Regions from separate parts of the Homo sapiens genome. Here all the other regions are reported to be linked to region 1. Evidence: microRNA targets listed by miRTarBase, many of them from high-throughput screens and not tested one by one. Region 1 holds a microRNA gene; each other region holds the end of a gene's coding sequence.

Region 1 (3,156 bases):
CTGTCTAATAAACTTTATACAATGCCACGTGCACGCAGCTTCCTCACTAACAAATAACATGTGTTGGGGAAAAAATGAGAAAATAGTGGAAAGGTGCCTCCTTGGAGGTGGTAACATCGGGTCAATTAATCAGCTGAGTATAAATTGATTCACTTTATACAAGTCTCCCACACATTATGATGCACATTTAGCAACGCTGAAAAACAATTTAAAAGAATACCTTAGGGAGTTGTTAAAGAGAATTTATAGTCTGGAACGAATTGCAATCTTCTTAATTGACACAGAAATGTTTGGCTAAAATATTGCTTTATTCACATTTTTGTCCTTGGAGGAAAATCTAGGCACACTGCAACTTGGATCGTGTAAATAAAGGTACAAGGAATGTTTTAAGTCAGAAAAGGGCATCACGCAGTCAGGGGGCTGTGTGGACGAGCTCAATTTCGATGCATCTCGGGAGACCCGGGCAAAAGGCCGCTTGGATTCCGGGAGGCAACGCCCCCAAGTCAGGATCCCTTGCTCGCCGCCCCCAACCGGTCAGGATCCCTGGCTCGCGTCCCCAACCGGTTCCGTGTCTCACCTGGGTCCTGCAGGCGTCCACTGGAGGAAGCCGGATGGCGCGGGCTTGGTCTTTCAGGAAGGCTGGCTGGCACCGGGCTTCCTTCTGGCTCCAGGGGGAACCGTACAGGACGGGGAGAAAGGGGGAAGCTGGTGAGAGGCAGAAGGGGCGTCACAAGGTGGCTCTCCCACCCCCAAGTGCAAAGGCAGGCGGATGCGGGGACCTGTTCGCCGTTTGAGCCTGGAGATTGCGGGCCTGAGGGGCCCTGCGCTGGCCGGCCGGGGCGAGGCGGGAGCAGAATGGGGATTTCTAGGCCGCCGGGTCGGGCTGGTGGGCGGCGCCCCGGGAGCCTGAGGGTCCCCGCCGGCCCGGGAGGGACCCGAGCCGCCCCCGCGCACTGCCCCGGCGCAAGGGAGTCTGGGAGAGCCAGCGTCTCGGGCCGCTGAACCCGACTCCCAGCTCTAGACTTCGGAACCCCGGCCCCACCCCAAACTGGGAAACTTCTAGGGGCCCACTCCTGGCCCCGGGAAGCCCAGTTCCAGGCAGCCCATTCAGACCAGAGGAGTTTGGGTGTCTTTTTTTTTTCTTTAAGGTGACAAAAAGTGTGGGAAAGATTCCACACCTCCCTCCCCACGCCCGCCAATGGTCCTTTACCTGTCCATGTTTCAGATTAAATAATTAGCTCAAGAGATTTGCACAGAAAGCGAATTAGCCCTTTTCTAGTCAGACTGTTAAGCTCTCAGGCGGGCAACTCGGAACCCCGTTTCCTCACCGAAGGCTCAGGAGGCCAGCCCAGTGAGGGATGGAGGTGGCTTTAGAGGGCGACAGTTGTGCAGCACTCATGAGCAACAGTGCCCAGGACTTTTGAAGTCACGAAGGGCTCCTGAAATCGACAGCTCAGGTCCCGCCCCTGGGGCGACAAAGGAGTCTTGGGGGCGTGCCGCCGGGTTGGAATTGTGGTAGCAGATTTTTGGGGGAGGAGGGCGCAAAGCAGCTAGAAACGCACATCCTCATTCTGGAACTATCCCAAGGCCCCCATGCTTCTCAGCAGGCCTCGGGCTCAGATTGGGCGGGTTGGAGCCTTCCACCCCACCTTGGGTTCACCCGCCCGCAAGGCCTCGCGCCTCACCCGATCCTTCTAGAGTGCTGGAGCTCCACGGAGCCTCCCTAACCCCCCAGCAGCGGGGAAGGGAGGGCGAGGGAGTGGGGAAGAGGCCCGTTATTTTGATCTTTCCTGAATTCTTAAGTCCCTTCCATACCCAGGACATGAGCGCGTTTACCAGGAACCGCAGAGAGGTGTAAAGACTTCTTGCAGCTGCTCACCCTTCCTCTCCCCTTACTCCTTTTCCAGTCCTCCCCACCCCCCAGCATTTCGTGGGTGGGGACTGAAGATAGGTTTTCTTCGTTGTCCTGTGGGTGGTATTCTGATTGGGAAGGGATTTTTTTCAATTGTTTACATTCTACCTGAGCAGGGAAAGGGGGTGCCAAAATGAAGCATCATTCACGTCCAGTCACATATGCAGAGACGGGGCAAACGTTTGATGCAATCTTGGGTCTCGCTGCTCCCGGGGCCGACACCGCAGGCGATGGCCTAAGACTTACCTGCTGGGTAGGCCCGAACGGCAGTCCCAGACTTACCCTGGCAGCGGAAACAATACCCCAGAGCACCGATCGCTCACTGCAGAACTGTTCCCGCTGCTAGGGCACGGCTGAGCGCGGGCACCGCGTCTCTCCTCGACTCGCACCGCCTATGCGCCCCAGCCTAGCCAGGAATACTGCCCTCCCCGGACTACAGCCCTGCTGCGTGGACAAGGGCGAGGACCCGCCGGAAACAGAGACGCGAGCCCCCGCCCACCTACCTGCTCCTGAGCCGGCCTCGCGGGGAGCGGGCACCTGGTGGCAGGAACACGCGTCCGGCAGACCCCACCTTCTACCTTCCCCACGAGGGGGTATAGCAGCGCCTCACGTTTTGAACCATTTAGAACACTTCAAAACATGAATTGCTGCTGTATCCCCTCGGAGTCAATGAAGGGGGATCGATCTGGGGGTACCTGCGGGTGAATAAAGACTGGATGACTGAAGGAAGCCCCGCCCCACCCCCTGGCAAGGAATAGGGCAAAACTTATGACTAGGCCACTTCACTCCAAGTTAAGGTACTTCTTATAACTTCACCATTTGATTTCCAGGAGCTGCAGGTGGAGCCGAAAGTGTGGCTCTCAATTTTTTCCCCTGAGGATGAATCTTGGAACAACGTAGTGGGTGAAAAGCAGAGCGATGGGGGATACGAATTAGTGTGGAAGAGAATCTAATTACTTCTGAAGGTAGACGAATAAGGTTAAGTAGAGGCAATTGGACATCTGGATCATTCTTGCCAGTTTCAAAGTCTTGGTGAAACTTCTTCCTGCTGCATATTACAAGTCTCATTCATTGTCCCCATTAAAAAAAAACAAAAAACGAAACAAAAAAACAACCTTTATTGGAAATGGACTCAGATGACTGAAAGAAAATAACCAAAACCTCACCGGTAGCTTCAGCTGATTCTTACACTATCGTTGCGACATATACATCTATCTTTAAAAGCATTAGATGTCCTAACTCAC
Region 2 (3,156 bases), not on the chromosome of region 1:
ACATGGTGGCGCACACCCATAATCCCAGCTACTCGGGAGGCTGAGGCACGAGAATCACTTGAACCCAGGAGGCAGAGGTTTCAGTGAGCCGAGATTACACAACTGCACTCCAGCCTAGGCAACAGAGCCAGATTCTTTTTTTTTTTTTTTTTTTTAAAAAGTCTTTTAAAAAATTCTTTTATTGTGCTGATTTTATTGTGTCATGAAGTGTAATATGCATGTAGGTATGTGTCAAGTATACAGAGTGTCAGGCATACGGTGTTCAGTCATAAGCAGTTCTGGCCTTTGGCCCTGCACTGTTTGTTGGCTTTTTAGGTAGGAACCTTCTTAGAGTAAGACTGTCATGCTAAAATTGTAGCAATCAAATGTGCCCCCCATACAACTCATTTGAGGTTGAGATTATGTTGCTAGAGTGGAGGAGATTGGAGTGTTCTAAATGCTAACAGTTTGTCCTGCCTCCTTGCCCCTGCCCCCTGCTCCTTTTTGTTTTCTTCTACTGTAGGTCAGCCCCAGTTGATGCTGACAGCAGGACCCAGTGTTGCCGTCCCTCCCCAGGCACCTTTTGGTTATGGTTATACCGCACCACCGTATGGACAGCCACAGCCTGGCTTTGGGTACAGCATGTGAGATGAAGCGCTGATCCTGTAGTCACCTATTTTCGTACTGAAACATCGTCTTTACCCACTTCTCAGTTTATAATGGGGGAAAACAGGCAACGTGTTCTTGTAACCTTTATTTCATGAAGGACTTCTTTTTGTTTCTAACTATAAACTTGGATCACCTATGTTAAAACCTTATTTCACATTCCACATCATTTTAGAATTTATTTTCGAAGGGGAATAGTTTCAATGTTTTATTCACTTGGGCTTTTTTTCTTCCCCCTCTTTCTTTAAAGAACTGCTCAATATTCAATCTGTTGTGAAGAACCTGATTTGCACTCTGTAGTGTTTAAAGAAACAAAGAAACTCTAATATTGAATCTCTTAAATTTAGTGTATGTAAACAGCTTACAAATACGTATTGTCTAAATGCATTTAAATCTGTTTTATTCAAAGAAAAGCTAAAGCAAAAACACTGGCATATGACCATGCAAGACTGTCAGTGCCAACAAAGACAACACTAATCAGCACATCGTACACTGGATTGCAGTGCTTCCCAGATTATTGAAAAATGTTACAGACAACTTGCCTGATTTTTAAATGAGCGTAAAAGGCCCTCTAACCTATGCAGGTTTCCCCATTATGCATATAGAAAATGCTAGTATGTTTTGCTCACTTCATATGTAACAGGTGCCCTTATGTTGTGCTGTATCCTGTGCTTTTTCTGTGGGACCATTCCATTCAGGAGCAAAGAGCACCATGATTCCAATCTTGTGTGTGTTTACTAACCCTTCCCTGAGGTTTGTGTATGTTGGATATTGTGGTGTTTTAGATCACTGAGTGTACAGAAGAGAGAAATTCAAACAAAATATTGCTGTTCTTCAGTTTTGTTTGTGGAATTTGAAATTACTCAAATTTAAAATAAATTACTGGACTGTGGAAATAACATAGAATTGAAGTTTTAATTAAATACCACTCAAACGAAAAGAACAGTAGTTTTTGTAGTTTTATATTGGATACTGAGGCATTAGGGAGGCATGAAAGGAAGAGGAATGAGGATTGAGACATGTGAAGACATTGTGCATTATATCAATGTGCATTCCTGTAGTTCATTAACAAGGTACATGCAATAGTCTAAAGAACCAGAGTCACTACTATAGTGGCTTAACATTTAATCTGTCTCCAATATTTTAACCAAGTGACACCGAGGTTTTTATCGAAGCATTTCACTTAAATGAACAAATCATGGCTGTTATATTAACTTGAAATAAAATATATTTAAACATGTAGTTAACATGCTCTTTCTCATCATGAATTATAAAGGTGCCCAAATTATGGGTATCTTGATTTTTTTCAAAAATTGGTTGTGTGAATCCAGCTCTTGCTTATGGCTGAGAATGTTCCTAAAGTTCATTTCACTATCCCTTAATCCTCAATAGCTACACATACCCCCTTGCCTAGTTAGTCTTGCACTGCTTTACAACTCTCTTAGGCAAATTACCTAACATAAGCTCCACAGAAGAGTTTTTTAAAACTTAAAATCCCTGTCCCACCAGGTGTGGTGGCTCATGCCTGTAATCCCAGCACTTTGGGAGGCTGAGGCAGGCGGATTGCTTGAGGCCAGGAGTTCGAGACAAGCCTGACCAACATGGTGACTCCATCTCTACTAAAAATAAAAAATCAGCCAGGTGTGATGGTGGATGCCTATAAGATCCTAGCTGCTACTCAGGAGGCAGGAGGCTGAGGCATGAGAATCACTTGAACCTGTGAGGCAAAGGTTGTAGTGAGCCAAGATCACGTCACTGCACTCCATCCTGGGTGACAGAATGAGACTCTTGTCTCAAAAAACAAAAAAACCTATTTAGTTTCATCCAGGACATTAAGTGAAAGTGTTTAATGTGAGTGCAGGTCAGTGAAGAATACAATGGTGCCCCTGCTTTGATTTGTGGGAGGTGCCATCAGTTTTCCCCACCACTGCTTTTGCACCCTCAGTGCAAATATCAACACAGAGAAAAAAAAAATAATAATAGTATTATGAAAACATTGACTCTGTGGAGACCCTGTGGGTTCTGCAGAGTATACTTTGAAAACTATAAGATTATGAGTTCTATAAAATACCAAGTACAGATGAACTAGAAAACAAGCATATATCCACAATTACCAGAATTTTCATAGTATTCCTTTTAGTAGATATGCCATGACAGTTACTTAGCCACCCCATGCCATCCTGTTGGGAATGCCACTACCTTTGAATTTGGAGCCATCAGTCTATCTGAGGCAAACCTCAGAAATTACCTGAGCCAGAATCATGCACTTAGCACTGAGTTCAACTCAGTCTTAACGTTGCATTTTGTTGCATCACTTTTGCAGCCAGTAAACATTCTGTTTAGAAATAGTTGCTATTGTGGCATCATTCACAGTTGCAATTTTTCTCCTGTGCTGTCATATGCCTGTGCGAAGTGTATTAAATGAATCAAATATTAGAAATTTCAAGGCTGTCTTTAGTGTTCTGCCCACAATACTCCACCAATGACCTTAGACCTTGAGATGGTGCTATA
Region 3 (3,156 bases), not on the chromosome of region 1:
ACATAGTTTTTTGAGTGCATCTCAACTGCCCACCCGGAGATTAAGATGCCCTCTGCTTTCCGCCTTACATCATGCCGTCTAAATAATCATGGAGCACTGTGAGCAGCCCAGATGATCCACACGATGCTCTGAGGCTAACATATGATAATTCTGCTTTTGAGAACATGTTTTTTAATTAAGAAAAATAAGCAAGTTCTTTCCCCTATCAAAAAAAAATCATTTTTCCTTCTATAATTTCACATGCAGGGATGCATTAAGAATTCACAGATCTGAAGTTTCTTATTCTTGCAAAGATGACCAAATAATTACTCTGTCCTTAAATATGTAAACTGAAGTCAATTAACCAAACACACCCCTAATCATTGTATTTACTTCATCACACAAGGGCTGAACCAAACAAAATGAGAAATAAGTCAGAATAAACTCTGTGCAGTTTATTCTCATTACAGTGTTCAACCAGTTTGACATATAAAGATAACACACTTTAACAGTAAATGTTGGGAGGCACACATATATTCCCATTCTGAAAGAAGACATGTTATATATACGGAAAAAAATGCAGCAAATATTAAGGTATTCAAAGTAATTTTTTTGAACTCAGATGTGACATATTTACAAGAAAAGTGTGTACGTTTTAAAATAATTAAATAATTTCCATAGACTTATAAAAGAATTGAGATAAATATTAGGAGACCCTGACAATCACCAGAACATTTTCCTATGCTATCGAACAAGGATAGTTCTATTTTAAAATGTCCCAAAACAGAGCTAATATTTTGCCACCATGAAATATATCAAATTGCAAATACTAAAGTGAACATGCAATGTGGAAGCTGTACCAAAATTAAACAGCATTAGGTTCTTAAATATTGCAAAGTGTCTATTTAAGATTTCTCGGGTGTGTTCATGAAAAAGGAACTTTCAAAAAAGCCATTAAAATGAATATATCAGCTGAAAAAGTGATAACTCATTAAAATCTCTTTATTCTATCACTTTCAAATGTAGCTGCAAAAGAGAAAAAATCTTAATGTAACTTTAAAAAAATATTAGCTTATGAATAAAAAAGTTGAGTGGTGCATTCTTTATGCATACAGATTTTTAAACTGATATTGTATAATTCTAATACATCTTAACCTCTGGACTGCACTGCTGTAGTAGGAAATTTTTCTGTCTCAGACAAGAAGTCATCTAAGAAAATGAAAACGAGAAATTTTCAATGATATGCATGAATTCAAAACAAAACAGTACTGTAAAATGGCAAAATATAAAAATAGCAGCATGTGAAATTCAAGACTGTTTTCTTAAAGCAAATGTTTAAGACTGAACCTCAAAAACGGTACTTATGGGCCGGGCATGGTGGCTCACGCCTGTAATCCCAGCACTTTGGGAGGCTGAGATGGGTGGATCACCTGAAGTCAGGAGTTCGAGACGAGCCTGGCCAACATGGTGAAACCCCATCTCTACTAAAATACAAAAATTAGCCAGGTGTGGTGGCATGCACCTGTAATCCTAGCTACTCGGGAAGCTGAGGCAGCACAACTGTTTGAACCCACGAGGTGGAGGCTGTAGTGAGCTGAGATCACGCCACTGCACTCCAGCCTGAGCAACAGAGCGAGAGCCCGTCTCCAAAAAAAAAAAGCAGTACTTACTCAAACTGGTCTATAATTCAACGTCGGAAACTAAAGATTCTTTAGAGAGGTGCTTATATCTATATCCCTATGATTAAATGTATTCTCAAATTTGTTTTTTAAAACATATATATTGCACAAGTAGTAGAATACCAGCATTCTGGTATCTCTAACATAAAATCCTATCTTAACACATTCAACTATTCTACTGAAAATTAATTTTATCACAATGTTTAAAATCAGTCACGTAGGACTTTTAAGCACATTAATCTCAAAACATTCCTAAACAAGATGAAAAAACACAGGCACTTGAATGTAGGCTATTAGTGACAAAAAGTAGAGGTCACAACAATTTCATGACTAAGGGCAGTTATGTCTTTACATATAAACTTGAGGTCTTTCACCAATCCAAATATAGAAATAACAACTATTTACAAAACTTGGATAAGAAAATCAGATCTCCCAAAAATTTCCTACCAAATAATTTTTGCGGAATAAAGCAGTGACTGCTCCAAGGCCTGATGAAGCTTTTTCAAACAAATGTCTAAGACACAGTTGTTTCAATTCTAGTTTTCTTCTTTTCTCTATGCCGGTATAACCCACAACCCTTACTGTTGGTCTATCCATATCCTCTATGCAAAATAAGTCACCTCAAGATTCAGGGCATCAAAAATGGTTATAATTTCAAAATAGTCCACATTTTAGTATAAATTTTACAGCACCACAGACATCATGAGTTTAGGTATCTTGGTCTGGCAATATTTCATGTGGTAATATCAACCAATAAGAATGTGTAAATATTGAACCTTTAATAGGAAGTCATTGTAGCATTTTTTAAATGACCAAAGTTATTAATAAGCATTTTTAATGCTTTAAGTTGTTAAACATTTAAACTGTCAAAATCACTAAGAAAAAAATATTACACATACATTGTTACCACCCGAATGAGAACACACAATGCTTCAGACAGATGATACTGAGATATTTTGGATTTTTCCTTTTTCTTTCTTTTTTAAAGAAATTATATTTAGTTTGGCCACTCCCTAGATTCTTGGTTTACCAGCTTATAAAGAGTACACCTAAGAGGCAGTATAATATACGCACTAAAAACCATTTCCCCCTTTATCATCTTTGGCTAGAAGCCTCATGAAAGGAAACTGAGGACGGCAGAGGCAGGCAGGCTCCGTGCGCTTCTGCCTCACACGTCACTGACCGGAAGGCTCGCATCGTCCAAGTCTACTAGGTCACAATCTTTTTCCTGAGGGCCATTTTTACTTTGAGGTCTTAACAGAGCTTGTTCAGTCACTTTGGAAGCTGGTTCTCTTGGAGAGACAGTCTGGACCTTGAAGTTCCCTGGCTTGACCTTGGCAAGAGACTCGTAAAATCCTCGCTTCTCCATGGTAAAGGTTGAGACCAAAGAGTTGCTGCGAGAGGCTGTGGAATGTGAGGTGGCGGTGGCTGCGTTGGTAGGACGGAAAGCGTGTTTGGATTCTGAAGGACCGGGGGGATGCTCCTGCAAAAAGGAGTG
Region 4 (3,156 bases), not on the chromosome of region 1:
CTTTTGTGTACCATTGACTTAGGCCTGGAAGGAGTGATGGAACAAACATTTATTGGGTATCTACCCTGTGCAGAGATACTGCCAGCCTGTGAGTTTTTAGGATTGGCTAAACAGAGTAGTAGTAAAAAGTATGTTAATGGTTTTTCATCATTTTTACCTGGTATATTCTCTCTGCAGAGTCACTTATTTCAGCAATTCAAGGTGATATTGAAGAAGCTAAGAAACGACTAGAGTTACCAGAACATTTGAAAATCAAAGAAGACAATTTCTTCCAGGTTTCTAAAAGCAAAATAATGAATGGCCACTGATGAAAAATTGTATTATTTATTCATTCACTGTTTTCTAGTGTTTCTGTGTTTATTACTGTTCAGCATCATCTTGGTTATATACTGAAAATCAAACACTTTACTACAGTTGTGAATTAGTTTAAACCGTACAATGTTGTTATCATATCATGCTTCAACTATTAAATTAAGCCCATCATATCATAGCACTAAAAAGATTGAGTTAAAAATAAGATTTAAAAAATATATATTGATTAAAATGTACCACTAGAAAGGTATTACATGTGTATAAGTATGGGTAAAAAGGCAAGTCACTAGTTTGAGATGAAAACTAAAATTTTCATGGTAAAATGCCAGCATGTATGTACTTGTGTAGTGTGTACTTCTAAACAGAGAAGGCTTATAAAAGTAAATGCATTAAGGCCAAGTGCAGTGGCTCACACCGGTAATCCCAGCACTTTGGGAGGCCGAGGTGGGAGGATTGCTTGAGCTCATGAGTTCAAGACCAGCCTGGGCAACATAGCGAGACTCCATCTCTATAAATAAAAAAAAAGGAAATGCATTAAATAGAAGGTTGATAGTTTATCATAAACCTGCGGGGAAGAAACTCAGACTTTCTATTTTTGATATTTTGTGCATTAATACATTACAAACATGAAGATGTTTGTAAAGTTTTGTTTTAGTCATTTTCTTTGCAGTCACATCATTGTACCACCTTCATTATTGTATAGAGCTGCTTCAATTCTGAGTCCTCTGGACTTCCCCTGCCTATCTGTTTGTTGTTGTTGTTGAAGACAGTAAAATAAGTGTTTTCAAATCTATATGTCTCCTTTTTGTTGGATAATGTTTCTTCTTTTTAATGGTAAATATTCTTGTTCTTCAACATTTTTCTTTGGTTCTTTTTTCCTTTTTTAGGAAAAACAAAACAACAGACTTCATCCTTAGGTTTTCTCAAGATTTAAGTGAACACATTTACACATATCAATTTCTTAAAGAACACAAAATGTTTCCTCCCTAGCAAAACTATTTAAGAGCCAATTAAACTATGAAATAGTTATAAAATTATTTTTAATATTTAAGGCCTTGAAATTATATTCCAAGGCAAATCTAAATGGGTGTAGTTGTATATGCACGATGTAATTTAATGCTAAAGAGTACTTACAGCTTGAGGGAAAAGCATAAAGTTTTAGTTAAATAGCCTTCATACTGTGGATTTTTCCTCCTACTAACTAATATGTGGGAAATTAAGATTACAGATGCTTTGGGCCCCCTCAAACAGTACATTGCTACAGTTCACTGTAGCAACAGATTTGGTGGTGATGGGGGGATAGAGGTAGAAGCAGATAGAAGGTAATTTTAAAGTTAATTTATTATGAATCATTTTCCCCTAATCTGCATAAATGAATTAGAACTGATTTTAATAAAAATATTCTGTGTAAAAAGTACTCAGAAAAACATCTAAAGCTGTTGGAGAAGAGGGACTCATATAAATAGTTGGATTGCGTTTTGCTTTTTATTTCTTTATAAAAATATGTCAAAAACAGTTTTTAATTTTAGAAATCTTATACTTGAAAGAAACCTCAATTATCAGTGGCTTTATGAAGTAAAGTTAAAAACAAACATAGGAAATGTGAAAATATTTGTGTTTGTTTTGTCTGACTAACTTGCTGCTAAATGCTATCTTTAGGTGTGTGAAAGTTCTTTGATATGTTATTGTCCTTTTACATCTTGTTAAATAGCCATTGCTTTTGAGAATCAGATAGTGTGTTGTTTAGGGGTTAATTGTGTCTATATCTTTCAAAAACTTTTATATTATGTATTATAAGAAGTTACAGTAGTACCATTTTGATTAGTCTGAATGTTTTCAGGCCTTGAAATAAATTTTGACTAAGTGATATTTTTTCTTTCCCTGTGTCAGCTTGAATCTTACTTTATGTATTTCGAATTTGTTGGCTGATTGCTACTCTTAAGTGTGTGAAGTTGCCTGAAGAGCAAGATATAGGTGGCAGCTGTAGTTCTACAACAAAGGGCCTTGCCTTCAGGATCCCCTGTGTTTTATGCCTGCAACACAGTGACTGAGGTTTATTTGGAGAGCAATCACAGGGCATCACTACTAAAGTCCACTTCCTGAGAGTAAGGGTTCCTGTTACATTTTGGAGATAGAAGAGCCAGAAGAGTATAGATAGGTCTGGGTTCCCTTGCATAACTCCTGCCCCAAAACAGAGTTCTGTAACCTTCTTGTCTTTTGCCACCAACCCCATAAGCAGCAACTTAGAACTCGTTTGCCTTTCTCTGTTGCATGCTGGTACTCTTTGAACAGTCATCCCCAGAACTCTCATCTTCCTCAACTATGGAGGCTTACAGCCTGCAGTTAGAGCTTACCATGAAACATGATTCTGATTGGGAGATGGAAGTGGAAGTCTGGTCTTCAGAGATGGAGCCAAGAAACTAACCTATTCTGCCAAAAAAGATGCCAGAAACAAATTGTAAAATAAGCTCTACAGAGATGGCAGATCCAGGGTTATCAGATATAGAATTTGAAATGACTGTTTAATATGTGTAATGAAGTAAAAGAGTAACAAAAATGGTAAAATGGCAAGGTGTTGTATAAAAATTGGGCAGCTGGGTGCTGTGGCATGTGCCTATAATCCTAGCTATTTGGGAGGCTGAAGCAGGAGGATTACTTGAGGCCAGAAATTCAAGGCTGTAGTGTGCTGTTATGGGTACTTGTAAGTAGCCACTGCACTCCAGCCTGGGCAACATAGTAAGATCCTGTCTCTATTAACATTTAAAGTAAAGTAAAAATTGGGCAGATAATTGAGAATTGTCCGAAATATATAGTTATAAAGAAAAATTGAAATTAAAAAGTCAA

The links. Region 1 holds the annotated microRNA hsa-miR-503-5p (UAGCAGCGGGAACAGUUCUGCAG, at 2,235-2,257, opposite strand). A microRNA usually pairs through its seed, bases 2 to 8, with sites in the 3' UTR of a target mRNA and lowers its output. Matches are read on the target gene's strand: a 7mer-m8 pairs with bases 2 to 8, a 7mer-A1 pairs with bases 2 to 7 and ends in A, and an 8mer does both.
Region 2: miRTarBase lists CLTC as a target of hsa-miR-503-5p. Seed matches in the 3' UTR shown: 7mer-A1 at 2,316-2,322.
Region 3: the mRNA of PLEKHA1 is a reported target of hsa-miR-503-5p. Seed matches in the 3' UTR shown: 7mer-A1 at 1,272-1,278.
Region 4: miRTarBase lists RFK as a target of hsa-miR-503-5p. Seed matches in the 3' UTR shown: 7mer-A1 at 1,951-1,957.

The regions. Positions count from the first base shown.
Region 1 is chrX:134,544,137-134,547,292 of GRCh38, forward strand. MIR503 (microRNA 503) reads right to left here and starts at 2,262; the gene lies at 2,192-2,262. It overlaps MIR503HG (MIR503 host gene), which reads right to left and starts at 2,494. Exons shown (of 3, transcript NR_024607.1): 1 at 2,416-2,494; 2 at 578-661. It overlaps MIR424 (microRNA 424), which reads right to left and starts at 2,575; the gene lies at 2,478-2,575.
Region 2 is chr17:59,693,226-59,696,381 of GRCh38, forward strand. CLTC (clathrin heavy chain) reads left to right here. Exons shown (of 32, transcript NM_004859.4): 32 at 503-3,156. The coding sequence ends at 627. Among named protein-coding and RNA genes, the nearest start is that of PTRH2, 13 kb to the right of the region's middle.
Region 3 is chr10:122,429,609-122,432,764 of GRCh38, reverse strand. It overlaps PLEKHA1 (pleckstrin homology domain containing A1), which reads right to left. Exons shown (of 12, transcript NM_001001974.4): 12 at 420-3,141. The coding sequence ends at 2,827. Among named protein-coding and RNA genes, the nearest start is that of MIR3941, 14 kb to the right of the region's middle.
Region 4 is chr9:76,384,551-76,387,706 of GRCh38, reverse strand. It overlaps RFK (riboflavin kinase), which reads left to right. Exons shown (of 4, transcript NM_018339.6): 4 at 178-2,181. The coding sequence ends at 308. Among named protein-coding and RNA genes, the nearest start is that of RFK, 8.3 kb to the left of the region's middle.